Regions from separate parts of the Homo sapiens genome. Here all the other regions are linked to region 3. The links come from fine-mapping of genetic effects on gene expression. A gene starts in region 3. Each other region holds a variant in brackets. All regions are shown on one strand. Distances are from middle to middle.

Region 1 (10,304 bases), 160 kb after region 3:
GTGTGCCTGTTGTGTGTTATATGTGTGTGTTGTGTGCATGTGTTGTATGTTATGTGTGTGTTTTTGTGTTGTATGTTGCATGTGTGTGTGTGTGTGTTTGTGTAGGTCTTTACGCTGCCTGCATCCTGAAGGCACCAGCTGAGCCTGGCATTTCCTGCGTGAGGAGCAGTGTTTTCTTCTGCAGAGACTCAGGTCCCCTTCATGTCTTGTGATGGCGGTGGCTGTGCCACTGGCCCTGTGGTTCGTGATGGCGGTGGCTGTGCCACTGACTGGCCCCCGTGGCTGCTGTGCCGGGCCCTCTGCTAGGTATTACCCACCATGGTGCCCACTGTTTTTGCCCTGGTTCACCCAGTGCCAGCTGCAGCACTCCCTGAGTACCTGCCATGTCTGCACCAGGCCTCCTGCGGAGCTGGGGTCAGCAGTGGGCCAGGCGGCCGCAGCCCTGTCCTCCACATCAGCTTCCAGTGGGGAGGAAGGAGCTGGTAAGGCCTGTGTGGTCTCTGGCCCAGCAGGGAAGTGCCAGTGCCCCAGGCAGGCTCACAGGGAGGCCTCTGAGGGAGCAGCCTCTCTCTGAGCTAAGGTGGGAGGGGTGCAGTGTGGAGCTGGAAGCCGGGGAAGGGGAGTGTGTTTCAGAAATGACAGGCAGTTGAAGGGGCTAAAGCGGGAGGCTGGGGCCTGTGCGCACGGAGGCCCGGGAAGGAAAGGTCAGATGCTTGCCCATGTGGCCCCATCAGAGCCCCGCCCGACCGTCTTATTGGACTCCACGTCTGGACATCTGCTCTAGCCCAGACCCTGGCTTTGTCCGGAGAACCCACAGGGCACCTGGTTCAGCGTCCCCACCCTGGGGCCTGACCATGGGGCTTGAATCCCCAGTCAGCACCTGTGCCCTGTGTGAGCTGGAGAAAGTGAATCAACCATCCAAGCCCACAAGCTTGTCATCCTCATCCCCACTTCACAGATGAGCAAATGAGGGCACAGAGCCCGCCATGAGCGCCCTGTTAGATGTCAGCTGCCTTCCTGGTTTAGACTTCCTGAGTTGGGTTTACCATTTCTTAGCAAGTTATTCAAACTTGACCACCCCGTCTGTACGTGGCTGAGCCACTCCTCATTCGTGGCTCTGACTGCCACGTTAGCCTTCATTTCACCCCATGGTGGCCTTGTGTATGGCCGGATCAGGAGGTGCGTCCCCTGGCTGGCCACTCACACGCTGTCCCAGCGGCATCTTCCCTCCCTCTCCAGCCCTTGGATTCCATTTCTCTTTGATGGGACCTTCAGCCTCAGCTGGGGACAGTGTTGAACACTGGAGGATGCCGCTGAGGGCGGTGGGTGTGGTGGCTGGGCCCGGAGGCCGTCGGGGCAGATGCTCTGAAAGCCCCCAGCAGTCAGCTCCTCCTGTCCCGGTGGAGGAGGCAGTGCTGATGGGTGACGGTTGCCCGTCCCTTAAGAGAAATGGGAAAGTTCCTCAGAACTCTCATTAATATTGTAGGGCTGTAAAAGAAGATATCTTTCCCTGCTCCATCCCTAGGAAGTGTGTGGGTATCAGGGGCCCTTTCTGTTCTGTGGGCCGTGACCACTCATTGCAGTTCCAGGCCCTCAGTGAGTTCAGTAATAGCAGTGGCTGGGGATGACCAGGTGAAACCTGGTCTGCTTGGTCACAGCATGTAGGAGGATGGGAGAAGCAGGAGGGGGAGCAGGGGGAGGAGCAGGAGGAGGAGCAGGAGAAAGTATAGGAGGAGGAGCAGAAGAAGGAGCAGAAGGAGGAGCAGAAGGAGGAGCAGGAGGAGGAGGAGCTGGAGGAGGAGCAGGAGGAGGAGGAGCAGGAGGAGGAGCAGAAGGAGGAGCAGAAGGAGGAGCAGGAGGAGGAGGAGCAGGAGGAGGAGCAGCCCTGTCTCCTCCCAGAAGCTCTGTCCCCAGTGGTGGGCACATGGTCCCATCCCCCCCAAGCCCTGTCCACAGCTTTGGGCACACGGCCCCTTCCCTTCCCCCCAGCTCTGTCCCCCACGGTGGGCACATGGCCCTGTCCCCTCCCCCCAGCTCTGTCCCCAGCAGTGGTCCAGGGTCCTCTGCCAAGGCCGCGTCCCAGTGGGGTTCCGGGGACAGGTTCTTCACCCACGAGTCAACGTCCCGGGCAACCCTGCTGCAGCCCCCGTGGGAAGTCAGGGCTGAGGGGGCCTGTGGGGTGAAGCCGGCAGCCCCTCTTTGGCTTGGGGGGTGGGGGGCGGAATACGAAGCTGAACATTCCTGAGGATCTGTTCTGGATGCCTGCAGAGAGCCCTGGAAGCCCAACCCATGGTCACACATCCTTCAGGGACCAACCCGCCGCACCAGGTGGCTGGAGAATGAGACCCTGTGTCTGCCGCTCCCCCTGCCGCAGGGCACACAGTCCCCACTGCACCGGGTGGCTGGAGAATAAGACCCTGTGTCCGCCGCCCAAGGCTCCCCCCGCCGCAGGGCACACAGACCTGTGATCCAGGCCAGCCCATCCTGTTGGAGCCACCTCTGTATGTATCCATATGTGTGTGTGGGAGTTGTGTGTGTGCTGTTTGTGCATGTTATAAGTGTGTGTCTGTATGTGTTGTGTTGTCTGTGTATGTGTTGTGTGTTGTGTGTTGCGTGTGTGTGTGTGTGTGTGTGTATAGGTCTTTACGCTGCCTACATCTTGAAGGCATCTCTTGACGCCAGGCCTGACTGGGCTGGGATCTGCCGACGACACTGCCTCTTTTCTGGGCTAGGCCTTCTTTTCTGTCAGGGCTCACAGTGGTAGCTCCTTCCAGGCAGTCCTCTGTGGTGCCCGGGCTGGGTCAGACACCCCTCCTTCAAGCCTCCTGGTACCTCACCTCTGTCCACCGTGGCCCTGCAGAGGAGCCACACCCTGCCCCGCCGGCACTGCAGCCTCTGCCTGCCTCTCGCCCTGAGCGAGCACCCTCTGCCTTAGCACCTGCTCAGGGAGCACGGATGAAAGATGAGTGATGGGTGAATATGTGCAGGAAACGCACTCCCGCCGCTGCCGAGGCATCTTCCCGCAGGCTGGTGAAGCTTCTTCTCTGTCTTGCAATTTGTAAACTCTGCTGTTCATTGACATTTGTCTGTCCTTTAAGATCAATTTAAAAGTTTCATCTAAATTCACATTCATACTTCATGCCTCAGAATAGGGACGTCTTTTTGTTTCTAACTGTTAGGAACCAAAATGGTATTGGGAGAGGCATGAGCTTTGATCACGCTCCCTATGCTTAATTCTCACTGGTTTTAATGTGTCTCTCAAACATCTGGTCCCACGTCCTGGGTTTTAAGTTAAGGGAATAACAAAATCACTGCAGGCAGCCTCCTGTGCTCCCGTCCTCCCATGCCCCTGTGCTCCCAATCTCCCGGGCTCCTGTCCTCCCATGAGCCCATCCTCCTGTGCTTCCGTCCTGCAGTGCTCCTGTCCTCTTGTGTTCCCATCCTCCCGTTCTACCATTCCTCCTGTGCTCCCATTCCCCATGCTCCTGTCCTCCCATGCTCCCATCCTCCAATGCCCCCTGTGCTCCTATCCTCCCTTCTTCCTGTGCTCCCATCCTCCTGTGCTCCTGTCTTCTCATGCTCCTGTCCTCCCATTTAGTGTCCTCCCATGCCCCCTGTGCTCCCATCCTCCCATTCTCTCATCCTCCCATGCCCCCTGTGCTCCTATCCTCCTGTCCTCCCATGCTCCTATCCTCCCGTCTTCCTGTGCTCCCATCCTCTCGTGCTCCTGTCCCATTTAGTGTCCTCCCGTGGCCCCTGTGCTCCCATCTTCCCAGGCTCCTGTCCTCCCAAACTCCTGTCCTCTCATGCTCCTGTCCTCCCGTGCCCCCGTACTCCTGTCCCCCCAGGCTCCCATCCTCCCGTCCTCCCATGCTCCTGTCCTCCTGTGCTTCCCATCCTATTACCCCAAAAATGTATCTTCCTGGGAGACTGAAGGTGAAGCGTCTGTGACGAGGCTTGATGAGTTAAATACAGATGTTTACTTCAAATTTTAGTGAAAGAGTGGAGGTCTGAGGAGTGTTCTCCGCAGGGAAAAGCATTCCTGCTCTGCAGTCGGGCAGGCTGGTGCCGAGCCTGTTTCCCACCTGTCTCCTTCCAGTGGGGGATGCAGCTGGGACGGACCCCAGGCCTCCGCCTGAGCTTGGCTATGACGGCATCCTCTCTGGACCACGCAGAGTCTGAGGCCCTGCAGAAGAGGGCCCAGCACAGATCTGGCACTGAAGGGGTGAGAGCTGAGAAGCATCCATGTGGACGTGTCCCAGGGGTTCACCAGCTCATGACTCCAGCACCCGAGTGGGTGTGTCACGAGAGTTCACAGGCTCATGACTCCAGCATCTTTCAAATGTGATGATGGTGGCAGGAAATTGAGAGTAACGTAACCACGTGTCCAGTTGCTTTGAGATAAAAGCACTGCTTTAAGGAATGTAGACATTATTAAAAGAAAAAACAAACAAAACAAAAGAAAACACGGTCTAGCCGGTGTCCTGAGCATTGTTTAAACGGAAGAAGAAAGAGAAAGCAGGTAGGATGCGAGAGAATGTGCAGATGACTTTCCTTTCAGGCCGGGCAGGGCCGCCAGGGTAGGCTGCGTCTGGCTGCTGAGCCAGTGTTCTGCGCAGGACGGCAGCGAGTTGGCCAGGGGGCCCCAGCTGCCCTGGCTCCTGCACAACCAGCCTCTTCTCGGGAACTGCAGCTGGAGAAGCAACGGGGGCCCCTGCATGTCGCATCTTCAGGGGATTTTCTGTGCTGTCCGTTCCCTGGGTATTTCCCAAGCACTTCCTCGGTGGAAAACAGACATGGGGTCCGCAGCCCTCAGTGTAGGAGCTCTTGGACAAGGTCTCTGGGCAGCAGCAAGAGCCTGTCAAAGCAAGCCCA[T/C]GCTCGGCTCACTGTGCAGGGCTGTCTGGGAGATGCTGGCCTGGCTTACATGCCCTCCACCAGAGGCCTCCCCGCCTGCTGCAGATCCCTCCCTGCCCCATGGCGACTTTCAGAAAAGGGGAGCGGTGAGGTAGCCTTGACTATGCTGAGATGGGCCCTTAACCCCCCAGTGAGTGACCTCTGCCGGCATGGGCGGCCTGGGGCACCCACAGCCCAGTGTGCCTTCCCCATGTGAGTCTGGGGTAGGAGAGGCTGATTGCAGGGACAGGAAGCAGCTGTGGCCCCTCTCCTTCCCTCCCTCTCTGCGTCTCCCACACCCATATGCGCTTAGGAGGAAGGCAGCCCCGTGGCTGATTTGGGAGGGCTGGTCCTGCATCCTTGTACAGCAGTGGTGAGCAACTCCCTGTGGGGCAGGGCTGTGGCTTTCCACAGTTCCCCGGGGGGCTGGTAGCAGGGGAAACCCAGTGCCTTCTTTATTTAGCTCTGTTTTTGGCTTGAGTTTCCATGGAAACCACGGGTAACTGAAAACACAGGCCCATGAAAGTTTCCGAGTGATTGTTATTTTAAAGAATATGGCTCCTCTTTCTTGCCCACATTCAGATAGCAGTTTCCATGGGAACAGAATTGAAACTGCCAGATGAGAGGGATCCCCATTTTGGCCATGTCCCTGGCTGTCTGTGGAGGGGAGGCTGTGGAGGAAGGGAGGGCAAGGGTGGGGCCGTGGTGGGGGAGCCCAGCACCCCTTGGCTCCTTCCTGGACATGGTTCTGCCACTTCGGGAGGAAGGGGCTCCAGGATGAGCCCCGATCATTGGTGATTCTCCTTCACTGTGGTGGCTTTCAGTCTTTGGGGAGGGTCCATGATGCCAGAAAAGGGCGAGAAAATTTTCAAAGAAGTTTTATCCCAAAGTGCACTGGGTGCTGGTCCCCAGACCCTCCCACAAGGACCTGCCAGGCCCACAGGGGCCCCAGACGTGCCCCCAGCCCAGAGGCCGTGTCCTCACAGGGAAAGCCAGGTGGGGGGAGCACAGTGTTCGCCAGGCCTGGAGGGGCCCCAGACGCGTGCCCAGCCCAGATGCCGTGTCCTCGCAGGGAAAGCCAGGTGTGGGGAGCACAGTGTTCCTCTGGGCACAGCCATCATCAACCCAGCTTGGAGGAGACGTCCTGAGGCCCTGGAGGTTAAGCTGCTCGTCGGGGTCTCAGTCTCACAGCTGCGAAGTGTCCCTCGGCCTCCGATCCTCAGTGCCGAGGGTCACTCAGTGCCGAGGGTCACTCAGTGCCGAGGATCCCTGTGCCTGTGCGATGCTGCAGGTGGGAGGTGCTGGGGCCCAGGATCTGGGAGAGAGGCTTCCTCATGGGCGCCTGAGACTTTTCCAGGCACTGGGGGTAGAGACATGAGAAGCAGCCTGGCGAGGACAGGGGTAGAGCCTCACACTTCCCAGAGCCCCACACCCACACACTCCTGGGTGTTTGTGCGTTTAGCTCACATGCCCTCCTTGCCCGAAACCCCCTGACCCCAGATATGCCCACCTGGTACCTGGGAATGTGACCTTATTTGGAATAAAGGTCTTTGTAGATGTAAGTAAGTTAAGGATCTTGAGGGACTATTCTCAGGATAGACCATATCTTAAGCCATAAAACAAAACTCAGTATATTTTATTTATATTTATTTATTTATTTATGATGGAGTCTCACTATGTCACCCAAGCTGGAGTGCAGTGGCACGGTCTTATCTCACTGCAACCTCTGCCTCACCAGCTCATGCAATTCTCCCGCCTCAGCCTCCCAAGTAGCTAGGATTACAGGTGCATGTCACCATGCCTGGCTTATGTTTTTTGTATTGTAGTAGATACAGGTTTCACCATGTTGCCCAGGGTGGTTTCTGCCTGCCTCAGCCTCCCAAAGTGTTGGGATTACAGGCGTGAGCCACTGCACCAGTCCTCAGTATATTTTAAAAGACTGCTTTCATGCAAAGTATCTTCTGACCACCATGGGATAGAATTAGAAATCAGCAAAAGAAGGAAATTTAGGAAATTCAAAAATATACACAAATTAAACAGCGTATTCCTCAATAACCGGGTGTCAAATGAGTCACAAAGGAATCAGAAAATGCTTTGAGATGAATGAAAATGAAAACAAAACATACAAAAACTTACTGGATGCAGCTAAAACAGAGCTTTGAGGGAAGTTTGTAGTTGCAAACACATACTAAAAAAGAAAAAAGATCTCGAATCAATAACCTAATCTTTACCTCAAGAAACTAAAAAAAGGAAAGCAAAATAAATCCAAAGCAGACCAGTTGGAGGAAATAATAATGATTAGCGTGAAAAGAAATAAAATATAGAGTATAAAAACAGTAGAGGAAATCAACAAAACCAAAATTGGTTATTCGAAAAGATCTACGACAATGACAAGCCTTTAGCTACATGGGCAAAACCTAAAGAAGGAGAAGGCTCAGATTAATAAAATCAGATGAAAGAGGTGACATGAAAACCAACCTCATACCATCCTGGCTAACACAGTGAAACCCTGTCTCTACTAAAAAATACAAAAAATTAGCCGGGCGTAGTGGCAGGCGCCTGTAGTCCCAGCTACTCAGGAGGCTGAGGCAGGAGAATGGCGTGAACCCAGGAGGTGGAGCTTGCGGTGAGCCGAGATTGTACCAATGCACTCCAGCACTTCCAGCCTGGGCGACAGAGCAAGACTCCGTCTCAAAAAAAAAAAAAAAAAAAAAAAAAAAGAAAAAAAAAAAAACCAACCTTATAGATATAAAAAGAATTATCCAGTAATCCCAGCACTTCGGGTGGCCGAGGCAGGTGGATCACCTGAAGTCAGGAGTTCGAGACCAGCTTGGCCAACAAGGTGAAACCCTGTCTTTACAAAAATACAAAAATTAAACAGACATGGTGCCATACACCTGTAATCCCAGCTACTTGGGAGGCTGAAGCAGGAGAATCACTTGAACCAGGAGGCAGAGGTTGCAGTGAGCTGAGATTGTCCCACTGTGCTCCAGCCTGGGAAATAGAGTGAGACTCTGTCTCAAAATAAAATAAAATTAAATTAAATAATAAAAAGGATTATCAGGGTATATTACGAACAACTGCATGTCACTACATTTCATAACTGGATGACATGGGAAAATTTCTAGAAAGACATAAACTATGAAAACTGATCCAAGAAGAAATAGAAAATTGGCATAGGTTTATAACAAGTAAAGAGAGAGATTAATTTTTAAAACTCAACGATACAGATGCGGGATAGAGAGCATGTACAAAGATCCCGCAGCACATGTCATACTCAATGGTACAGAAGTGTGATACAGAGCATGTATGAAGATCCTGCAGCATGTGTCATACTCAAGGGTAGAGATGCATGATAGAGAGCATGTATGAAGATCCCACAGCATGGTACAGATGCATGATAGAGAGCATGTATGAAGATCCTGCAGCTCGCGCCATAATGGTACAGAAGTGTGATAGGGAGCATGTATGAAGATCCTGCAGCACGCGTCATACTCGATGGTACCAATGCATGATTGAGAGCATGTATGAAGACCCCACAGCATGCGTCATAATGGTACAGATGTGTGATAGGGAGCATGTATGAAGATCCTGCAGCACGCATCATACTCGATGGTACCGATGCATGATTGAGAGCATGTATGAAGATCCCACAGCATGGTACAGATGCGTGAAAGAGAGCATGTATGAAGATCCTGCAGCACGTGTCTTACTCGATGGTACAGATGCGTGATTGACAGCACGTATGAAGATCTGGCCGCATGTGTCACACTCAATGGTACAGATGCGTGATAGCATGTATGAAGACCCCACAGCATGCGTCATAATGGTACAGATGTGTGATAGAGAGCATGTATGAAGATCCCACAGCAGGGTACTGATGCATGATTGAGAGCATGTATGGAGACCCCACAGCATGCGTCATAATGGTACAGATGTGTGATAGCATGTATGAAGATCTCAGAGCATGTGTCACACTCGAAGGTACAGATGCATGACAGAGAGCACGTATGAAGATCTCACAGCACACATCATAATGGTGCAGATACATGATAGAGAGGATGTATGACGATCCAGCCACATGCGTCACACTCGATGGCACAGATGCGTGATGGACAGCATATATGAAGATCCCAGAGCATGTTTCATACTCGGTGGTACAGATGTGTGATGGACAGCATATATGAAGATCCCATAGCATATGTCATACTCGATGGGGGAGACCGAGTATTGGGGGAGACCCCCAAGGTCTGGAGTGAGACATGGGTGGCACTGTGGATATGAAATGTCCAGAACAGGCCAATCCCTAGAGACAGAAAGCAGATTAGCAGTTGCAGCCTGGGGGCTGATGAAGGAAATGGGAAGTGACTGTTGCTGCGTGGGGGCTGAAGAAGGGAACGGGGAGTGACTGTCGCCTCGTGGGGGCTGAGGAAGGGAACGGGGAGTGACTGTTGCTGCGTGGGGGCTGAGGAAGGGAACGGGGAGTGACTGAGGAGGGTATCGGGTATCTTTGGGGGTGATGAAGATGTTCTAAAATTAGACAGTCGTGATGATTTTGCAACTCCATGATTACACTCAAAACCACTGAACTGTACACTTTTAAAAAGTGAATTTTATGGTATGTGAATTATGTCTCAATAAAGCTGTTAAAAGAAAAAAAAATTAAAAAAACAGGCCAGACGCTGATGCGAGAAATCAAGAAGGTGGTTACCTGGTGGGGTGGGGGTGGGGCAGGAGCGCGGGGTGGGGCAGGAGCGCGGGGTGGGTGGGGTGGGGCGTGAGCCTGGGTTTGCAGGGGTGGGGCGTGAGCCTGGGTTTGCAGGGGTGGGGAGCGAGCGTGGGGTGGGTGGGGAGGGAGCATGGGGTGGGCAGGGTGGGATATGAGCCTAGGTTTGCAGGGGTGGGGCAGGAGCGTGGGGTGTTGGGAGTGGGCAGGGGCGTGGGTTTTGTGGGGGTGCCTGGTTAGGTTCCATCTCTTGGTGTAGGTGCTGGTTACATGGATGATTTGGTTTGTGAAAATCCAATGATCTGCTCACTTATGATAAATGCACATTCTATTCCAGTAGAGAGTTTTAAAAGGAAATAAAAGTAAACGAGCATGGCCAGGCTCACGTGGCAGCATGGGGTGGGGGTCATGGCTGCAGAGGGACACTGTGCACCAGAAAGTGAGGTGAGAGCTGGATCGTTCCCCATCCGGGTGTGGCACTCGCAGTGAGCTTGCGTGTTGAGGGTGGGCTATGATGGTGGGGGAGGTACCTCCAGCCAGATTAACTTGTGCATTTCCCTCAAGGCTCGCTCAAGGTCGCCTCCTCCTTCCAGCTGCGTTCTGGGGCTCCCAGAGCAGCCCAGGTCCCTTCCTCAGCCCTAGGGTGCCTCAGGCTCACACACTGCATGTGCGCCCGGCCTCCTGC
Region 2 (10,304 bases), 39 kb before region 3:
ATTCATTAGCAAATTTAGAAAAAAAAAAAGAACACATAATGTTGGTTTTTCAAATGTAGCCTATTTAAAACTGCCTCTGATTAAACCAGGCAGGCAGTGGACTTCAGGTAATTCCCATTATACAGATAACTTTTTCCCAAAGGTAGAAAGAAATTTGTATTTTTAGGGACAAACATTTCAAATCACAGAGAACTTACATCACAGGCTGCTGTGCAGTGATGGTATTTACAAGACTAGACTCCGAGATACAGGTGTATAAAGGGACGAGAGAAATTACTATCTAAAGAGCACCCTCGGGAAGACGCCAGTGTCCCTCTGAGGAAGGATACTAAAGCTTCTATCTGTGATTTCTAAGTGCCATAAATTAATTCTCAGGTCATCTGCAGAAAGATATGTTTCATGATCACTATTTACTGAAATGGAATTTATATGATATGTGTGAGCATTTGCAAAAATTCGCCGTGGACTCGCTTCTACCATAAGATCCATGGGCTTCAATATTGGGACCTAAAAATGGAAGGAAATAGGAATTCAAAACAAAGATCACAGCAGCACATAATTAGAACACTTATAGTAGATAACGAAAGAGGACAAGTTTATATTCATGGCTAAGTAATAATTCTGTACAGGCAATACCCCCAAATAACCAATTAGCAGAGTTATGAAAATATGCTACAAAATGGAATACTGTCTATTCCAAGTCTTCCCCTTGCTTCCATTACCGAGGTCGACATGTTCCTGCTGAAGAGAAGATCAGCTGGCAGGGTAACAAACTGCCCAGGCACCGAGGCCTGCGGCTCCCTCTCCTGTGTGTCCTCCAGTGGCCACACTGAGGCGCTGGACAGCAAAGTCCTCCTGGGTGGCTCAGCTGCACCCCTCCCTTTGTCCTCTCCTTGCAGCTAGATGCACACACCTCTTCTCACTGCACTAGGACTATGCTTCTCGGTGCAAACCCCACAAACCTCCACTGGCTCCAGGTACTGGCAGGGTGCACAGCAGGGTGCTGGGGAGCTGAGGATATTCCATTTCTTGGTCTGGGGCTGGCTACATGGGCATGTGCACCCTACAAACATTCATGGAGCTGGTCACTTATAGGGCAGATGTCTTATCTGGAGGTATGTATTATATATTACACTTCACTTGAGGTTAAAACAAAAAGTAGAAGGTACCTCCCGCCCCCATCTCTGTGTTGAGTGCTGTGGTCAGGGAGGCTTCCTAGGGAAGCCCAATTCGCACAGAAATAGAAAGGACAGAGAGGAGTGGGCGCTGGCTGCAGGCCGCCTATGGTCAGAGGTGAGAGCTCAGGCGTGAGGAATAGCATCACACATGAAAAAAGGAAAAAGGCCTGTGTCTCACTAACATCCAGCTGGAAGAAAAACATAAGCTTTAAAATCAAAACAAAAAATTAATGATAGTATTTTTTGTTATTCTTGTAATTAGAAACCAAAAGGGAGAGCCTTGAAAGCTTAGGGGAAAAAGAAAAGCTCTCAACTGAGTCTTGTCTGGCTGAATTCTGTAAAAAACCAACTTGGAAAAGTGTGTGTAGGGAGGCTTCCCTCATTTTAACCCAGGTAGTGCTGACCACACCCTTGGATTCTCTAGAGCAAGAAGAGTCAGTTCTACCAAGTTCAGGCTTAAAAACACACACCTACCCCAATCCTCTAACAAATTTCCCATTAATCAAAACATATGATAGCTGCAATACTTACAAAGATTCCTTCTTTTATTGAAAACATTTTAATTTGCATATAAAATAATTTGCTTTCATTTTTAGAGATGGGGTCTGGCTATGTTGCCCAGGCTGGTCTTTGAACTCCTGGGCTCAAGTGATCCTCCCATCTCGGTCTCCCAAAGTGCTGGGATTACAGGTATGAGCCACCATACCTGGCCAAGATTTCTTCTTTTAATTATATCCCTTTTCTGGCACTAAAATAATTTAAGAGCAAAAATTTAAAAACAGCAACATGTCTGACTCTTACCCAGTTAGGCTCAGATACATAAATAGCCCACTCTGAACTGTTAGAGAGGTAAGATCTCAAATACCGACCTAAGTCAATGTACAGAATTACCTGTCTGTGGTCTCTTCCCCATGCACCAACTAATGAAATAACTAGACTTCTCACACACCTTCAGTAGGGCCACCAATTATACCCGTTTTATTTAGGCTAAACCTACAAAAGCAGCCTTGAATAAAACCAAGACTGGGCCTAGTAAAGGCCTACTGTTCTCCCAAAATGAGCACGTGAGCTGATGGGTTGTGGCAGGGTCTGATCAGGAGGAACAGGGGTTTCTGAGGGTGGGGTGTGCACAGGTAACTGGGTGGGAGGTGGTGTTGGCTGCAGAAGAGATGGACAAGGCTGGAGGGGGTCAAGTGCCCACCCTCGGGGGTCCCATCACACTTCTACTTTAGGATCAGCAGTTTCATGATGATGGAACTGCACAACTCGTGTTACTGTCACTAAAAGTGATTTACACTAATTCAGGGGTGCAAAGGCGGCAGCACTGTGTATCAGACATCACCAACATTTTGGATCAAAACATCTTGGTTCAAATTAGGACCCTATAAACTAGATTTTCAGCAAATGCCACAGCCTTTCTCGCTTTGATGAACTCATAGGAAATACGGTGACAACATCGATGTGAGAAGTCTGAGGACACTCCTCCTGAGGAATGCACAACCCCAGGTGTAGCCACCCCACACGGCAAAGCTGGAGAAATGGCATCAGAACAGACCCAACATCACTCCCAGAGGCACATGTGTTAGGGAAAGGCTTCTGCGGTACAGCGTCCTCTGTAGCACTCTCCAAGACTAATGTGGAATGGGCTCACTCACTCAGTCTTCACTTGATAAACAATAGTGTAAAAGGGGCTGAAATCTCATTAAAAACCAACCAAACCACCCAACTCAACCACCCACCCCCCGCAACCAAACCACCCAACCACCCAAACAACCAACGGTTTTCCAATCTAGTAACGGCACCCCCTTGGGACCAGGCAGAGTTTCCTTCCAGGGGACACACCTCTGCACAGGTGCTGGTTTCTCACCAAGACACACCTGGGCTCGAGCCCAGTTTGCCGGACACCCTTCACCATGTTCCATCTAATTTAAGACAACATCAGTGGTGCGTAGCACCAGGCCAATTATAAGACATTGAGGTTTTGAGTTTTAGCCGGTTTCATAAATGTTAAAATATGAAAAAATTTAGGCATCAGAATTGATGAAATATGATCATTTCATACTACCAACAATGGAGCAAATAATTTAACAATTAAAAAAGTAATGATGCTCATGGATGGACAGGTGGAGAGTTCTGAACCATCAGCATCTGCCTAAACCAACCCCAAAGAAATTCCCCGAGAAGCGTCCTGAATGTACCTGTGGCCCACAGCTCATCTTTCGACCTGCAACCTGTGCTACTGCACCTGTGAGGTGTTCTGAATTTCATCTGAACTCCAACCTCCCAGGTGCTGTTCTGAACCTTCTGAGAGAAGGGTGGTTGCTATGTCCACAAAGATTTCTGCTGTAGAATTAAATATGAGTTTTCCCCTTAGTATTGCTGTGTTTCCTAAGGACCACATGTGACTTTCTGCCTTTGTGAAAACAGGAGAAAGACCTTGCTTTTAAACACACACATGAGTGCAAACGACTTTCAGGAATCACGAGGCAGACCTCACAGCAGACCTCACAGTACTCCACCGCGCAGCACTCTCCAGACAGCAGACTGAAACGTTTATTCTTAACTTCTCAACAGCATTGGATAAAGCAAAGGCAACGTGTACCCGTAGCGCCGTGATCCTAAATGGGTCTCGAAGTCTTCCATCTTCGTCTTTCAGGTTATAACCTTCTGCTCTTTTATCCCGTTCACTTATTTTCCATAATTTTATAGTTTTATCTGAAAATAAAAACCTCATTCTCCATATGAAAAGAAAAACTATAACATGCATCACTACTGTTTGAGTACTGGTATTAGAAAGCGGTGTGGTCCTATATTGGGTTATAAGCTATGGGGTCTCTGAACATGAATATTTCCAATTGGAGGTGTTTTGTACAATAAAGAAAGATGTGCAGACGTGCAGAGTAACAGCATAATAAAGTGCACGTGTGGTTTTTGTTGCATACTTTGAATTTTCAACCTATCACTTGCTACCCTAGATAACTTACCCTCCCCCCAAAATTTAAAGCAGGAATAACTTCTAAAATAAAAAGGAATCTACACACACACAGAAAATTAAAAATAAAAAACTAAATCAAACAGCCACTTAGAACACAATTCTTACCATTTGTAGACAGTAGAAAATGAGCAGCATTCTGTTGTGGTAACCACCTAATTTTATTAATTTTTTCCTCAATTTCTAGACTTTTCAAATAGTCAAACTCCGGTTCATGACTTTGAAAGGTGCTGTAAACATTATATTCTCCCCTAGAATGAGGGCGGCTTTTATTCTGCAAGGAAACATGAGAGCTGTTTTAATGAACAAAGCACAGTGTAGAGAAAATTTCAGTACTATAAATTTGAATATCAAATGACCATACATATTTTTTAAAGCTAAAAAATCCTGGCTCAAAAAAATCTCAGATGAAACTCAGGGAAAAAAAAAAAAAAAAGAACGAACTTGATTTCCGACTCTTCGACTCCACTTCTAGGTATGCATCTGGAGCAGGTCTGCCGAATGCAGCCTTGCTGTATTTTCTGGAGCAGGTCTGTCAAATGCAGCCTGCCGTATTTTCTGAAGCAGGCCTGCCGAATGCAGCCTGCCGTATTTTCTGGAGCAGGTCTGCCGAATTCAGCCTGTCGAATGTAGCCTGCTGTGTTTTCTGGAGCAGGTCTGCTGAATGCAGCCTGCCGTATTTTCTGAAGCAGGTCTGCCAAACGCAGCCTGCCGTGTTCTCTGGAGCAGGTCTGCCAAATACAGCCTGCCGTATTTTCTGGAGCAGGTCTGCCGAATGCAGCCTGCCGTGTTTTCTGGAGCAGGTCTGCCGAATGCAGCCTGCCGTGTTTTCTGGAGCAGGTCTGCCGAATGCAGCCTGCCGTGTTTTCTGGAGCAGGTCTGCCGAATGCAGCCTGCCGTGTTTTCTGGAGCAGGTCTGCCGAATGCAGCCTGCCGTGTTTTCTGGAGCAGGTCTGCCGAATGCAGCCTGCCGTGTTTTCTGGAGCAGGTCTGCCGAATGCAGCCTGCCGTGTTTTCTGGAGCAGGTCTGCCGAATGCAGCCTGCCGTGTTTTCTGGAGCAGGTCTGCCGAATGCAGCCTGCCGTGTTTTCTGGAGCAGGTCTGCCGAATGCAGCCTGCCGTGTTTTCTGGAGCAGGTCTGCCGAATGCAGCCTGCCGTGTTTTCTGGAGCAGGTCTGCCGAATGCAGCCTGCCGTGTTTTCTGGAGCAGGTCTGCTGAATGCAGCCTGCCGTATTTAAGGCAAGTGTTAGTGGAACACAGTCAGGCCCATGTGTGCACATACTGTCTCTGGCTGCTTCTGCACCATCTGGGTAGAGGTGAGTGGTTGTGAAAAGGCCGCATGAGCTATAGAGGCAAAAATGTTTGCAATCTGGCCCTGGAGAGAAAGTGTCTGCTGAGTCTGCTCTAGAGGAGAGCCAGCACGGGCCTGAGGAGCGTGACACAGCGATGTGGCAGCTCCAACACAGTGGTAGTGAACCAGACGCCACACATATGCCAACCAGAGGCGAAGGGCAACAGTAAGCCACAGGGCCATGCAGGGACCACCACGAAGCCGCTGAGATAAATGAGCCAGCACAGACAACCGCACAGTGCTGCACAAGTGAAGCAGGCTGCACAGGTGCCCAGAGTGAGGTGCTGCTTACGTACGTACAGAACAAGTCTGTTACAGAAGTGGAGAAACATGCTTGGGAAGACATATGCCATCTTCAAAATCATGAGCAACTCTGGGAAGCTAGAGGGAGAGTGAAAAAGACCAGGAGGAAAGTAGCAGGCTGAAATGGGGAGGGGACAACAGGAGCTTCATCTGTATCCCGAGCATTCTCCTTCCTTTGATGAAGGGATAACCTCTGGGTGGTGGGTTTGCAGGTACATCTATATTAACCTCTGAATCTTCTGTATGCCCTAAGTGAAATTTTCTATTAAGTATTAAATATTTCATAATTCAAAATCAAGGACGCCAGTACTTTCATTCTTGCTCTATAACCAATATCTAATATCTTAGGTGTTTAACACTTTAGTACATATGCTAAAGGAATGGAACTAAACGAACTTTCAAGTCTAAACAGATGTTCCTTGATATTTCCAATCTGATCAAGTATCAGGAGAAGACATCCCAAGAAGCTACCCACACCCGCACTGCTGCAGAGTCC[A/G]ATGTGCAGGGCATTCCTTCCACCGAAGCCTCCACGGGCAGAAGCTGAGCGCCTCGCCTGCCCCGCGTCGCTGCACTGAGTCTGACGTGCAGGGCATTCCTTCCACCGAAGCCTCCACGGGCAGGAGCTGAGTGCCTCGCCTGCCCCTGTCCGCCGCACTGAGTCTGACAGGCAGGGCATTCCTGCATTCCTTCAACCGAAGCCTCCACGGGCAGGAGCTGAGCGCCTTGCTGCTGACTGCCCCGCGTGTGCTGCACGGGGCAGATGTTGAAACTGTTCTCCTTTGACCCTCTCCTACCACTCTACAAAAAAGCACAGCCCCTCAACAGACAGTTCTATTTCAAGGGAGAAAAGTGGAACCAAATTATTTAAAAAGAAAAATCTGTATAACTAAATTAGTCCTATGCCCAAGACATTCATCTACCAAGAAAAAACAGCGGAATAGAAGCAAAAAAATAAAATGTCCAAGTCAAAGTGCTGCCTGCACTGCCCTGGCCTTTCTCCTAAGAGCCAGAACAAGAATGGTCCCTAGGCTGCAGGCTTGTCTCTCTGCCATGAACGGGTTCCAACTCCCATCCCAGTCACCCCAAACCCAAGCAACCCCTCAGCCTTCTCCAACACTCCCAGATCTCATGGAGTGCCGCTCTGCTAGGAGAGAATTCTAAAGGAAGCCTCATGGGGACACGGGCAGGAGAGCAGGGAAGTAACACACAGGAAGAGGAGGAAGCGAGCACCTTCTCTTTTTGGACGTGCTGATTTCTGATTTCACCTGATTCCTGGCGGCTAGAGCTGAGCCTGGAGGGCAGTGGGCCGCACAGCCACACCCATACGTTCTGTGGGCCTTAGTTTTATTGGCTGGGCTTTCCTGTAAGACTTAATCTGCACAGAAAAGTAAGAAAAGCTTGAAACTCAAGGTGCTGACTATGCTTCCCACCTCGTCTTCTGCACAGCCAGAGCTTCCCAACGGGCCTCTATGGACCTGACTCCTGAATCTCAGGCCCTGCACCTTCCACAATCTGGTGCTCACTCACTAGCCTTCCGAATCCTCCACGCTCCTTCGATTCTAAGACGCACACGTGGACGCCTGTGAACCTTGCTGCAGCTTCTAACTGGGAGCTGGGGTCGCTTGATGGGCAGCAGCTTCACCCTCTTGGCGGCTGCAACACCATCCGCGGCCTCCGGCCATGGATGAACACGTGCACTGCCGCCCTTACCCACAGACACACTCAAGTCCACAGGGAAGGGCACATGGGGCAACCAGCCGAATGCTCTAAAATGGATGGACCGTGAAAGCCTTTCAGACGTGAACCGAAATACGAAGAAAAAGAAAAAAGGCTGCCTGGGGTTTGTCAAGTTGCAGCTGGCTGAACAACTTCAGTAGGGACTTGCTCCTGTATAAATCTGTCACTCACATAACAACTTCATCTTAAAAAAGCACTTAACACTCTATAATACCCAATATCTTTTAGAACGAGATGCTTGACTTTTATCAGGGTTTGTTTTATATTTGAGACTATTATTATTTAGGTTAAGCAACGATTCACAAAAACAAGAGAAATTCCATTTTCTAACCTAAAATCTGTTAGGCAGGGATGAGGCATCTTCCCTAAGGCTATCGCTACAATGACAGACTTTTTAAATAAGCTAAAAGTGAAGTCTTGCATTAAGATAGCCATGACTCAACAATTTGTTAAAAAATCCTCCTGCTGGCCAGGCGTGGTGGCCCATGCCTGTAATCCCAGCACTTTGGGAGGCCGAGGTGGGCGGATCACCTGAGGTCAGGAGTTCAAGACCAACCTGGCCAACGGTGAAACCCCATCGCTACTAAAATACAAAAATTAGCTGGTCGTGGTGGTGCATGCCTGTAATCCCAGCGACTTGGGAGGCTGAGTCAGGGCGAACCACTTAAACCCGGGAGACAGAGGTTGCAGTGAGCCAAGATCACGCCATTGCACTCCAGCCCAGGTGACAGAGCAAGACTCCATCTCAAAAAAACAAAAACTCCTCCTGCTTTAAAAGTAACATTTAAACACCACAACCCACTTTTACTTCTGTTGAGAAAGGTAAGGTGTATGGTTCTTTTTTTTTTTGAGATGAAGTCTCACTCTTGTTGCCCAGGCTGGAGTGCAATGGCACGATCTTGGCTCACCGCAACCTCTGCCTCCTGGGTTCAAGCGATTCTCCTGCCTCAGCCTCCCAAGTAGCTGGGATTACAGGCATGTGCCACCACACCCGGCTAATTTTGTATTTTTCGTAGAGACAGGGTTTCTCCATGTTGGTCAGGCTAGTCTTGAACTTCCGACCTCAGGTGATCAGCCCACCTCGGCCTCCCAAATTGCTGGGATTACAGGCGTGAGCCACTGCGCCTGGCCAAGGTATATGGTTCTTAAGTAGCATTGTGTGATATTCTACTTCTGAGATAAAAATGCAAAATTATAAATGTATCAAACTGTGAAGAAATATTAACGATATACTTATTATTCACAAAAGGATTTCTTACCATCCCAAATCAGAGAAAACAGGATTTAAAAAAATCTTTAACTACCTGGACATAATCAAAATAAAGCTGCAACAGGTATGTTTTGATAATGAAATTGGTTAGCACCTGTCAATTTTCCTCATGTGGCCCAGGGACAGTCCTCCTCCAGGCTCCCCTTCCTGGGGGGCAGGGCCAGCACTTCCTGTGTACAGATCTGCAGAGAGGGGAACCAGGGCCCACCAACCTCTAAACCAAAGTTCGTCACACAAATTTAGAGACCAGACTTTGGAGATGATAAACTGTCCCTTTCATCTGTTAGGAAACTCAGAGACAGGAAGGGCAAGGGACTGTATTTATAAGGAAAAGGCAGGACAAATATTTCAGACCCCAGGCTTAGCTGCACAGAGCCAGGGTTCTTGCCAGGAATCCTTGACTACCAAATCATGATCTTGCTTCCTTTATCACTGCTCATTAGGACCTCTGAGGAGGCTCAACAGAAAGAAGAGGGAGGGGGCTGGCAAGGCATCAGTGAAAAGGCAGTGCCGTGACCGGGAAGCCAGTGCTTGCTTATGAGCTGTGGGCTCCTCCAAGGCCCACACTCTGAAGGTTCCCTTCCCTCCAGACAGGTGAAGCCTTCAAGGGGGCATGGAGGAGTGAGTGCTGCTCACCTCTCCCTGAAGGGAAGAGAGAATTCACACCCCTGCCAGACTTCTCTGCAGGAAGTGCTGAGAAAGCTGCTCACACTTCATGGCAGGGCAGGACGGCGGGGCTGGGCCAGTACCTGCATAGGCGTATAAAGGGATTTTCAGAGAGAGCCGCGTGAGTTCTTATGGAATGAAAGCACATAAATGCACCTCACCACCACCCTGCATCCTTCATGGGGTCCCCAGCGGAATCTCCTCCCTACTCTGAAGACAAAGGCCTTGGAGACTTCACCGGGGCTCAGCAGCTGAGGCCAGAACTTAGATAATTTCTGAAAGGAGATTCTGTATGGCTAATGTGATGGAACTGAATCTTAATGAAATGAGACAATGAGAAAATAATTTTGCTTCCTCCCTTCTAAGTTATATGCGAAAGGTTGAATAATTGCATTTGATTTGTGGACTGAAAATTACTGACCTCTTGTTCACGCTGAAAAATAACAACTCTGCCGCCCTTGTCTCCTGTTGCAAGAAGATCTCCAGAGTAATTAAACTCAACGGTGGAAATGATGTCCGCTGTCAACAAAATACAGAAGCGATTTACCGGATGCGGTTTTGGGGAGGAGTCACAATACCAAAAAATTAATAAAAAAGAGCAAAAGGACGATAAACATATACAACTTTCTCCGAGACTAAAGCAAAACTGTCTTGGCAAACTTGTAATTACCAAGTGGCCACTTATTGGTTCTGGTGCAGAGAACCTGCCGGCACAGGTGAATGGGCGAGTTTTACTCCACCCCCATGCCTGGGCCCCTGGAGCACCAGGATTTATCTAGACTAGGTTGTCTTGATAAAAGGATAAA
Region 3 (10,304 bases):
AGTAAGATTTTCACCGAGCTTTAGAAGAACAGCTCCATCCCAAGGCTGGACGGCCGCATGCCACAGTGGGGCTTCATCAGTACTGTGCTGGCTGCAAATGGTCGCTGAAGCAGTACAGCGCTCCACGGCTCTGCGGCCAGTCGGCGTGGCTCCAAACCCTGGCCCTGCCATACACTCGCTTTGTGACCCAGGTTAATTGCTCCCACGCCTCGGATTCTGCATCTGAGACTGGGAAGAACAGTATTTCCTTCCTTCTTCGGTGGTGTGAAGATTCACTGACATAGGAAAAGCACTGCGAGCAATCTCTAGCACAGAATGACCACTCAGCAACTGTTACCTATCATGACCTTCGTGCTGGGTCCTCTACAAGGGCTGGGGTGGGAAGGGGGACAGCCAGCCTTCAAGCTTGAGGAGCTCAGTCTACCAGAGAGAGAAGCAAAGGATGAAATACCATGTGACATTGCAAAACACATCACATGCTGAATGAAGTACGTTCCAGGAGAGGGAGCAGGGGCTGGGTGAAGGTGATTCCATAACATGCAGAAAAAATCTGCACAACAGTTAACAATTTCCAGAAAGGAGCCACCGTTTAGAACCGCAACATCGTGGAATTAGAAGCTAACAAACAACTTTTCTACTTGCTTCCTGCTGGAAGCCCCCTGGTTTTACTATTTTAACTCTTGGTCAACTCAGCATATAAACTCACCTAGTCCCACCTTCCAGCAAAGGGAGGAGATGCAAGTCACCACTGACTGCTGCTTATACACCTGCTCATCAGCAGGACACTTAATAACTTCCTTGTGAGCTCAGCTCTACTCCTACCTGCAGGGGGATGGGAAGTCTGATGACCCAGTGGAATCACAACTCTTAGCAAAATGACCTGACCCATAGCTAAACCCAATTCTTTTAAAAAAAAAAGGGGGGTGGGGTGCGCATCAAATTTTACATAGGCCAGCACTTTCACCATAGGTTGATTCTGATTCCCCAGCCCAAAACTATTAGTTTTAAAAACAAAACAGAAATCAAAACAAAAACCAAAGGCTTTTCTATGTCACTCACTTCATGACCTCCAAAGTCAGGAGTGCCTACTCCTAGCCCTGCACCACTTCCTGTGCACTGGGCATCACCCCACTGAAGTCAGGAGAGGACCCAGGCCTTAATCTCTAAGGCTCCTTCTCCTTACCCATTGCAGAGAGGGCAGAAAGACGGCCAGAGTGCAGGGCTGTAGTAAAGCTCTACAGAGCTGAACTTGGCCCAGAACAAAACCTTCAAGAACAAAATGCCTCACAAGCCACAAATCTAAACAAACAAAATCTGCTATACCTTAAGTTCTACAGCCTGAGCAGCAGTGCACGATAAAAACCCCTGTGAACTGCCCATCTCTCTTTTTTTTTTTGAGACAAAGTCTTGCTCTGTCGCCCAGGCTGGAGTGCAGTGGCACGATCTCGGCTCACTGCAAGCTCTGCCTCCCGGGTTCATGCCATTCTCCTGCCTCAGCCTCCCAAGTAGCTGGGACTGCAGGCGCCCGCCATCACACCCGGCTAATTTTTGTATTTTTAGTAGAGACGGGGTTTCACCGTGTTAGCCAGGATGGTCTCGATCTCCTGACCTTGTGATCTGCCTGCCTCGGCCTCCCAAAGTGCTGGGATTACAAGCGTGAGCCACTGCGCCCGGCCATCTCTCTCCTTTTTTTTTTTTTTTTGAGACGGAGTCTCGCTCTGACGCCCAGGCTGGAGTGCAATGGCACCATCTCGCCTCACTGCAACCTCCACCTCCCAGGTTTAAGCAATCCTCCTGTCTCAGTCTCCTGAGGAGCTGGAATTACAGGCCGGCCCTGCCACGCCTGGCTAATTTTTGTATTTTTAGTAGAGATGGGGTTTCGCCATATTGGCCAGGCTAGTCTCAAACTCCTGACCTCAAGTGATCCACCCGCCTCAGCCTCCCAGAGTGCTGGGGTTACAGGTGTGAGTCACCGTACCCAGCCACCCATCTCTTATCTCTCACCAACATCTCTCCCTCAAGGTTGCGTTTGGGCATGACCAGCTTCTTGATCCTTGCTGCTCAGCAATCCCTGGTGACTAACGACTACACTTCCCTTCATCATCACTGACTCTCTGGTGTTAATACAAAGCAACGGTATCACAACTATGGGACAAATCGATGGTGACTTATAAATGTGTTAATCTGGATGGGTTACTATGGCCAAAGCATACATGGATTAAAATAGACAGCTCTGAATACACAGAATAACCAAAACACATGCAGATAATTACCACAAAGCAATGTTACAAAAGAAACCACGACAACTCGAAATACCAAACTTTTGGATTTACTCAAAATTTAACTTAAAATAGGGATTTAAAACTGCAAAAAGTTCCCATCAGTTTAATTCAGAGAACAAAGTATTTGTCAAGATTTTTTTTTTTTTTTTTTTTTTTTGAGATGGAGCCTTGTTCTATTGTCCAGGCTGGAGGGCAATGGCACGATCTCCACTCACTGCAACCTCCACCACCCGGGTTCAAGTGATTCTCCTGCCTCAGCCTCCCAGGTAGCTGGGATTACATGCATGTGCCACCACGCCCGGCTAACTTCTGTATTTTTAGCAGAGACGGGGTTTCACTGTGTTGGCCAGGCTGGTCTCAAACTCCTGACCTCAAGTGATCTGTCCACCTTGGCCTCCCAAAGTGCTGGAATTATAGGCATGAGCCACAACACCCGGCCCAAGATTTTTTTTAAAGAAAGAATACTATTTTCATATGTGTACAGTCACATTTAAAATATACTACCTTAGTTATACTTAAATTTTAATTCATTCAGCTTATCAATAATTTTTTTTTTTTTAAGTAAAGAAACCAGGCAGGTGCGGTGGCTCACGCCTATAATCTCAGCACCTTGGGAGACTGACGTGGGCAGACCACTTGAGCCCAGGAGTTCAAGACCAGCCTGGGCAACATGGCGAAATCCCCTACAACAATACAAAAATTAGCCTGGTGTGGTGGTGCACGCGTGTGTGTGGTCCTAGCTACTTCAGAGACTGAGGTGGGCGAATCGCTTGAGCCTAGGAGGCAGAGGTTGCAGTGAGCCCAGATCGCACCACTGCACTCCATCCAGCCTGGGCTACAAAGTGAGACCCTGTCTCCAAAAAACAAAATAAAGAGTTAACAGAAATTAAGGCAAGCATTAAGCCCTCTCACTTTCCTACTCCCAAACAAGTTTTGCTTTACTTGCGACAGAAATCACACTTGAGTAAGGCTGAACTGTCACTTGCTTAGCATATGCAAAATCAAACAAAAAAAGTAATGCATTTTAAAGAAATAAAATCAATAAACTTTTTAGATCACATAAAATGCACCTAGTTTTAATCTCAAACCATATATATTACGCATTTCTTAGAGCCCAGTTTCACCTGCTTAATAACCTAGGCCCTGTTTGTCCCAGGGGGCGCAGAATCTCCAGATGTCCTCAGGGGTCATGTGCCAAACCAGACACTGCCAGGGAGAGGTACAGGGTAGGGAAGAGGGAGTAAAAGTTCACGGGGTTGGGGGGGCCGAGATGGAGGGAAGTGAACAGGACGTCTGACAAGGGGCTTTTAGTAACTTGAGGCAGGGAAGGTGTATTTGGTGCAAACACCAATCATTTTTAAGAAAAGGTTAAAGGTTTACAATGTTCAGTAAGATGTATGAACAACAACAAAAAAGTCACTATGACTCTGAATCTGAAATATTAATCAAACTTCTAAGACTCGACCAAGTTCTCCATTCAACGGTGAAAAAGGAAAGCTACATAGCTTTTTAACTTTAAGGTGACAGGTAAGCTTCATGGGAAGCTGGGGTGGGAGGCACTTCCCAGTTCCCTCCCACCACCCTAAAACTTTGTGCCTGGGCCAATTTGAGAGTATGATTTAAGGAAAAGACCAGTGAACTTCAAGTAATACCATGAAGTTCAAGACTAAAATCTGGAATAGAGACCTTAAAATATATCAGTAGAGAAAGTAGCAGTACCTCACAGTAAAATTCAAGGATTTTAGAACCGCAGAAAGCAGACCTTAAGAATCAGGGAGCCGAGGCAACCAGCTCGCTCAAGAGCGCACCGCCGATGAAACGCAGAGCCTGGTGGGGGCCGAGGCCCCGACCCAGCCCTAGGCGCGTTCCCAGCCTCTGGGCCATTGTGCCGCGCTGCCCGAGCGCACGATATGGACTCCGTTCCCGTCCCCGGCTCCGCCGCGGTCTCCTCAGTTCCGCCCCAGGCAGGAGGCAGCCCCGGGCTTCGGTTCCGCCCCGGGCAGGAGGCAGCCCCAGGCGCTGGGTTCGGAGGACCCGGCCGCCCGTGACCTTGGTGACTTACATAAGTCCCGCCGCGGGCCCGACGCCTCCGCCCGTGCCCCGCGGGCCGGGACAGCGGACAGAGGACGGCCGCCCCCCGATCACGGCCCCCAGCTCGGCCCCTGGCCCCTGCCCCGCCCGGCCCCCATCCTCCTGCCTGCCTTCCACGGACGCTTGGGGCCCGGAGGCCGCGCGCGGCCGGGCTGGGAGCTGTCCGCGAGGGTCCCGGGGCGGGGCGCGGCGCGGGGCTCACCTTCGGCCACGTCCTCGTCGATGGCCCCCTTGACCTGCGAGAAGCACCACTGGAAGTCGTTGCCGCCCGCGGGGCAGCCGCCGCCTCCGGCTCCTGCAAACACAACGGGGCGGTCAGGCCGGCCGCGGCCCCCGCCCGCCCCCGTGGTCCCCGCCGGCCCGCGCAGACCCCTCACCTGCCATGGCAGCCGGCGGCGGGACGGGCGGGGACCGCGGCAGACCAGGGAGACGGCCTCCGCGCCGCTGCAGCCGAGCGCTCAGCCCCGGGGCCGCCACCACCGCCGGCGCCGCCGCCGCCGCCGCCGCCGCCGGGGAGGGATTTTTTTCCCTTTTCAAAATGGCGCCCAATGCCCGTCGCCCCGCTCGATGACGTCATCGCCCTCCGCCTCCTCGGACGGGCAGCGGACGGGGCGGGCCGCGGGGGCTGCCGGGGGCGCCCAATGCGCCTGCGCCCGGCGCCGCTCGGCTGTAGGGGGGAAGGGACGCCTGGGCGACTGCGGAGGGAAGCCGGGGTCGCCGGGCGCAGGCCAGCTCCTCGGCCCTCGGCCCTAGGCCTCCCGCAGTGGTCCGGTGTGCACCCGGCGCTCCCCAGAAGACTAGCGCCGCCGGCCGCCCCTACTCTCCGGGGACTCCCGGAGAGCCTAAGCTGCGGCCGGACACGCCTTCAGGGCGCCGCTTGGCCGGACACGCCCCCATCCCGCATCGGCCAATGGAAACGTGGGTTCTCCGTGGAACCGCCAATGGAGGACGCGCTTGGCGGCGGTGGGCGGGCATGTGGGCCGGCCTCACCTGAGCGCGCCGTACCTGAGCGCTGCCTCCCGCCCACTGCCCCCGACGCGGAGTCTCGCTCTGTTCCCCGGGCTGGAGTGCGGGGGCGCGATCTCGACTCCCTAAAAGCCTCGACCTCCTGGGCTCAATCCATCCTACTGCTTCAGCCTCGGAAGTAGCTGCGAGCACAGGCACGCGCCGCCAGGCTCGCTGATTTTTAAATTTTTTGTAGAGACGGGGGTCTATGTTGCTCAGGCTGGTCTCGAACTCCTGGGCTCGAGCCATCTGCCGGCCTCGGTCTCCCAATCCTGTCCACCTCCCTTTCGGAGCGCACCGTTGCTCACCAGATGGCTACCTTAGGGGTTCTTGGAGCTCCCAGTGCAGTCTTAGGGAAACAGGGCCGATCGTTTCATTTGCGGGTGGTTTTCTCTGGCATACTGAGCGATCATGGGTGCTCCTCGACTTACAGTGGGGCTACCCTCCCCGCAAATAAGCCCTTCCTAAGTCAAAAATGCATCTAATACCCAATCTACCCGTCGTAAAGTTGAAAAATCTGAAGTCGAGCTATCATCAGGGGGACTGTCCCTATGGGATTGATGTCCGGAATCAGAACTTCTTTCAGGGTAGCTGCGGTGGGCACTGATGGTATTGCACCACTAAAAGACAGTCGCTGCAAATCAGGAACATTCGTCCACTCCATTAATATTATTTATTGACAGCTCCTGCCACGTGCGGCACACTCCACAGCCCTGGGGGTGAGAGGTTAACAGAGCAGAGAAATCTCAGCCCTGGTAGAGCTTACCTTTCAGTGGGGGAGACAGACAATAAGGAAATAAATACATAATAAGTCGGAGCTGGAGAGAAAAATCAGGGAAGAAGGAAATGTGTATGGGGAGAGTTGGAGTCTTGCACGGGGTGACTGGAGAAGACTCAAGGATAAAGAGCAAACCATGCAGACGTCTAGGAAAGCTTGGCCAGGAAGGGGAGACCACCAAGTGCCAGGACAGGAAGGAGGGCCATGCCTGGCATGGGCAGGAGGCAGCCAGAAGCTGCGTGGGTGCAGAGTGAGTGGAGGGGAGGCCAGGGGTTGGAGTCAAGGCAGGGAGGTAAGTGGAGGAGGATGGACAGTGGGCAGGCCATTTAGGGGACTTGGACTCTGAATGAGATGGGCTCATGAACAGAAGACGATCGTGATGGACTTGGGCTTTTGGATGCTCTGCTGAGAATAGCTTGTGGGGACCCAAAGAGGGGAAGCAGGGAGACCAATCAGGTGGCCAGCTGGGCTGACCAGGCATGGGGATGAGGATAGAGTGGTGAACATGGGGTGGGGTGGTGAGAACCAGTCAGATTTCAGAGAAAAGTGCTTCGACAGCAGAGCCCCTGGGATTTGCTGATGGAAAAGATGCGGTGTGAGAGAAAGCAGGGACTTAGGAATGCCTGCTCTCGGGTGGTCTGAGCACCTGGAAGGATGGAGTTTCTGCAGCAGAAGGCACAGCTGGGTGGGGGCGGTGCAGCCCGACCAGAGGTTCGCTGTCAACACATAGTGCTGTTGCACAGACAGGCTGGGAGCACACAGGGAAGTCAGAGCCAGAGCATCAAGGTGAGAGCATTTAGAGGTCATTTCAAGTCAGGAAACTGGGTGAGGTCACCTCAGGAGGGAGGACAGATGGGGGACAGGACCAAGGACAGAGCCCTGAAGGGGTGAGGACGTGGAGGATGAGTGAGCAGCCTGCGAGGTGGGCTCCTGGAGAACCCATCTCCAGGATCCACTGAAGACAGGAGGGAGTGGCTGCTCTGTGATGCTATGTGATGAGTATACAGGAGTGACCATTTGGTTGTAGGGACTGGGAGGCCATTACTGACTTGGACGGAGCGGTGGCTATGGAATGGACTCAGATCACAAGTTTGCAGAGGGCTCTGGGGACAGTGGCAGGAGAGGAACTAGAGGCAGTGAATACCTACTTCTCTGTTGAGGAGAAGAAGAGCAGAAAAATGGGGCTGTAATCTTGTTTTTAAAATGTAGATTTAGCCTATCTGCCCAGGAAGACACTTGAAAACCTGAATTAATGACCAGATCTCTTTTATTTGTTAACTTAAAAACCTGACAATTTATAAATTTAGAAAAAGAGGAACTTTATTTCTTATAAATGGTTACAGCCAGCAAGGTGGCCATCCCCCAGGCCAAGATGGGAGATGGCTCTTCGTAGGAGGAGGAGTTGGGGCAGGAGCTCTATGCTGAACGGGTTGGCTAAACATACATAGACAACAGGCTTTGGGAGGAGCTATGAATACTCAGGAAGGGGCTCCTGACACGTGTATTATGTAACATAGGACCCAATCTCACTCTGTCGGGGAGACTAAACATTTGAATATATTACGACTGTAATCCCAGCACTTTGGGAGGCCAAGTCTGGCAGGTTACCTGAGGTCAGGAGTTCGAGATCAGCCTGGCTAACATGGCGAAACCCCCTGTCTACTAAAAATACAAAAATTAGCTGGGCGTGGTGGCGCCCGTATGTCTGTAGTCCTAGCTACTTGGGAGGCTGAGACAGGAGAATCCCTCCAACCTGGGAAGCAGAGGTTGCAGTGAGCCGAGATCGTGCCGTTACACTCCAGCCTGGGCGACAGAGCGAGACTCCGTCTCTAAATAAATAAATAAATAAATAAATAAGTAAATTAGGACTAGGCCCTGTACCTCAAGAGGTCTTTTCAGGACAGGAAGGCATGCAGATGTGCAACCTCTGTAAACCGGCCAGAACCAGTCCAAGGTCGGTGGTTTCTTATCAGGAGACAGTTACAGTCTTCTGTCCAATGAAAGCTGTAGTTACGGCTGCTGGAGCAGGGCTGGGGGTCACTTAGTGGCTGGTGGAGCTGCAGTTGCTTAATGTTGCTCCTATCAAGGCCAGTGCTTATTTAGCTGCTGGAGGGAAGGAAAACCCAACAGCAGTGGGAACGACGTTTTCTCTGTAAGTGTGCGGTGCGTGGCTTCACCCTCCCCCCGCACGGCCTTAGGCCCTGTTTATGATTTGGCATCTTACTGCCACAGAGTCCGTTCTGTCAGTCTTATGGTCTCTAGTTTAACGTTAACGCTGGTCTGTTGTGTCCAAACCACAAAAGGGCGGGGGTATCAGGAGGCCTGTCTGACCTCCCATCCCCCATTATAGCCTCAGTGTTGAGGTTTTCCTGGGGCCCCCCCTGGCCACAGGGGTGTTCGTTCAGCCAGTGGGGGATGTAGGATTTTATTCTTAGTTCCTATGTAACTGCTTTAATGTGTGTTAAATATGTCTTTTGAAGTGATGACAAGATAATTAGTTTTTGTTTAGAATGTATTTTCTGGTTCATTAGCTCCCATTAAATTAAACTAAAAACAAGATATAGCCACAAAAGTAACATATTCCTGAGACTGGGGGGCTGCCTTCCCTGCGTCCCACTGTGCATCAGCTGACCAGCAAGAGATTTTTAACTATTTTTTAAAAAGAGATTTTTAACTATTCTTCTTATGATGCTAAAAACTTAAAATATTTGGCTAAACCACAATGACTTTTGCGCCAACCTAATAGCTCAATGAATTTCTCTGTTTGGATTCTAATTGGTGTTTACAAGTTTCTGAGTATTGACAGCAATTTTATTTTTTAAAATTGTTTTTCAGATCTCACAGCTGAATTGAAAATGCCTGGTGTGTATTAGAATCTAGCCTATTGTAATCATAGAAGGCAGTACTGTTCAGTAACTAAAAGGCATGAGCTACTACTGATACAAACAGCAGTCCCAAATGAGTCCCCGAAATATTACGAAAATGAAAGGAGCCAGACACGGAGGCGTGCAAGCTGCATGCGCCCCTTTATTTTATCATACTTAGTCTCATGTGTCAATGTAGCGAGGGTATAGTATGTAGTTATTTCATCAGAACTAAGCCAAGTATTGCCACGAGGGTGTTTCGTGGATGTGGTTAACACCCACAGGCAGTTGACTTTGAGAAAAGGAGATTACCCTTGATAATATGAGTGAGCCTCATCCAATCAATCAAAGGCCTTCAGAACAAATACTGAGGTTTCTTGGAGAACAAATTCTGCCTCCAGGCTGCTGTATCAGCCCTTGCCTGAGCTAGCCTGCCGGCCTGCCCTGCTCACCCTGTGCACCCTCTGTTTTTGAACTTGTCAGCCTCCACAATTGTGTGAGTGAGTTCCTGAAAATAAAGCTCATTCCATACACGGTTTCTCTGAAGAATCCTGAAGTTCTAGAACAGGTGAGACTGCTCTACAGTGATTTTAAAAATGGCACAGGGGCTGGGCGTGGTGGCTCACGCCTGTAATCCCAGCACTTTGGGAGGCCGAGGTGGGCAGATCACAAGGTCAGGAGTTTGAGACCAGCCTGACCAACATGGTGAAACCCCATCTCTACTAAAAACACAAAAATTAGCCAGGTGTGGTGGCGCACGCCTGTAATCCCAGCTACTCAGGAGGCTGAGGCAGGAGAATTGCTTTAACCTGGGAGGCGGAGGTTGCAGTGAGCCGAGATCGCGCCACTGCACTCCAGCCTGGTGACAGAGCAAGACTCCATCTCAAAAAAAACGGCATGGGGCACGAGTGTGGGGATTGACTGGAGAGGGTGGGGGATGGACTGGAGAGAGTGGGAAAGAACTCCCTGGGTTGATGGAAGTGTTCTGCATCCTGATGGCCGCAGCTGTTAATGCAGCACGAATGGTTGTCAAGACTCATTGAAAAAGACACTTAAAGTGGACCCATTTTATTGTATGTGAATGATACCTCAATAAAACAGATTTTTTTAAAGGATTGTTTTATTTTAATGGCTGATCTATGTAATCACGGAGGCCAGTATGTACGGACAACGGGGGAGCTTTTATTTTTTGGTATCTTCCTCCTTGGACAAAGTCTTGAAGATCTCCTCCTTCTTGACTTGGAGGCGCTCTTCACGGCGCTTGCGTGCTTCCTTGGTCTTAGA

Evidence for each region. PIP is the estimated chance that this variant, and not a neighbour inherited with it, causes the effect.
Region 1: its variant is fine-mapped to the expression of PPP2R2D in cerebellum (GTEx, PIP 0.95).
Region 2: its variant is fine-mapped to the expression of PPP2R2D in tibial nerve (GTEx, PIP above 0.99). The same link has a PIP of 0.9 or more in Th1 cells, aorta, breast, esophagus muscle, gastroesophageal junction and ileum.

The regions. Positions count from the first base shown.
Region 1 is chr10:131,738,407-131,748,710 of GRCh38, reverse strand. No RefSeq gene overlaps it. Among named protein-coding and RNA genes, the nearest start is that of LINC01164, 47 kb to the left of the region's middle. RefSeq lists an enhancer at 5,412-5,511. The variant T/C (reference allele first, on the strand shown) is at 4,876.
Region 2 is chr10:131,934,171-131,944,474 of GRCh38, reverse strand. It overlaps PPP2R2D (protein phosphatase 2 regulatory subunit Bdelta), which reads right to left. Exons shown (of 9, transcript NM_018461.5): 3 at 9,920-10,017; 4 at 4,279-4,444; 5 at 3,781-3,893; 6 at 330-507. Among named protein-coding and RNA genes, the nearest start is that of PPP2R2D, 38 kb to the right of the region's middle. RefSeq lists an enhancer at 8,915-10,114. The variant A/G (reference allele first, on the strand shown) is at 6,322.
Region 3 is chr10:131,895,602-131,905,905 of GRCh38, reverse strand. PPP2R2D (protein phosphatase 2 regulatory subunit Bdelta) reads right to left here and starts at 4,898. Exons shown (of 9, transcript NM_018461.5): 1 at 4,751-4,898; 2 at 4,576-4,668. The coding sequence starts at 4,757. It also overlaps the pseudogene LOC100134362. RefSeq lists silencers at 4,089-4,138, 4,319-4,718, 4,789-5,298 and an enhancer at 5,539-5,638.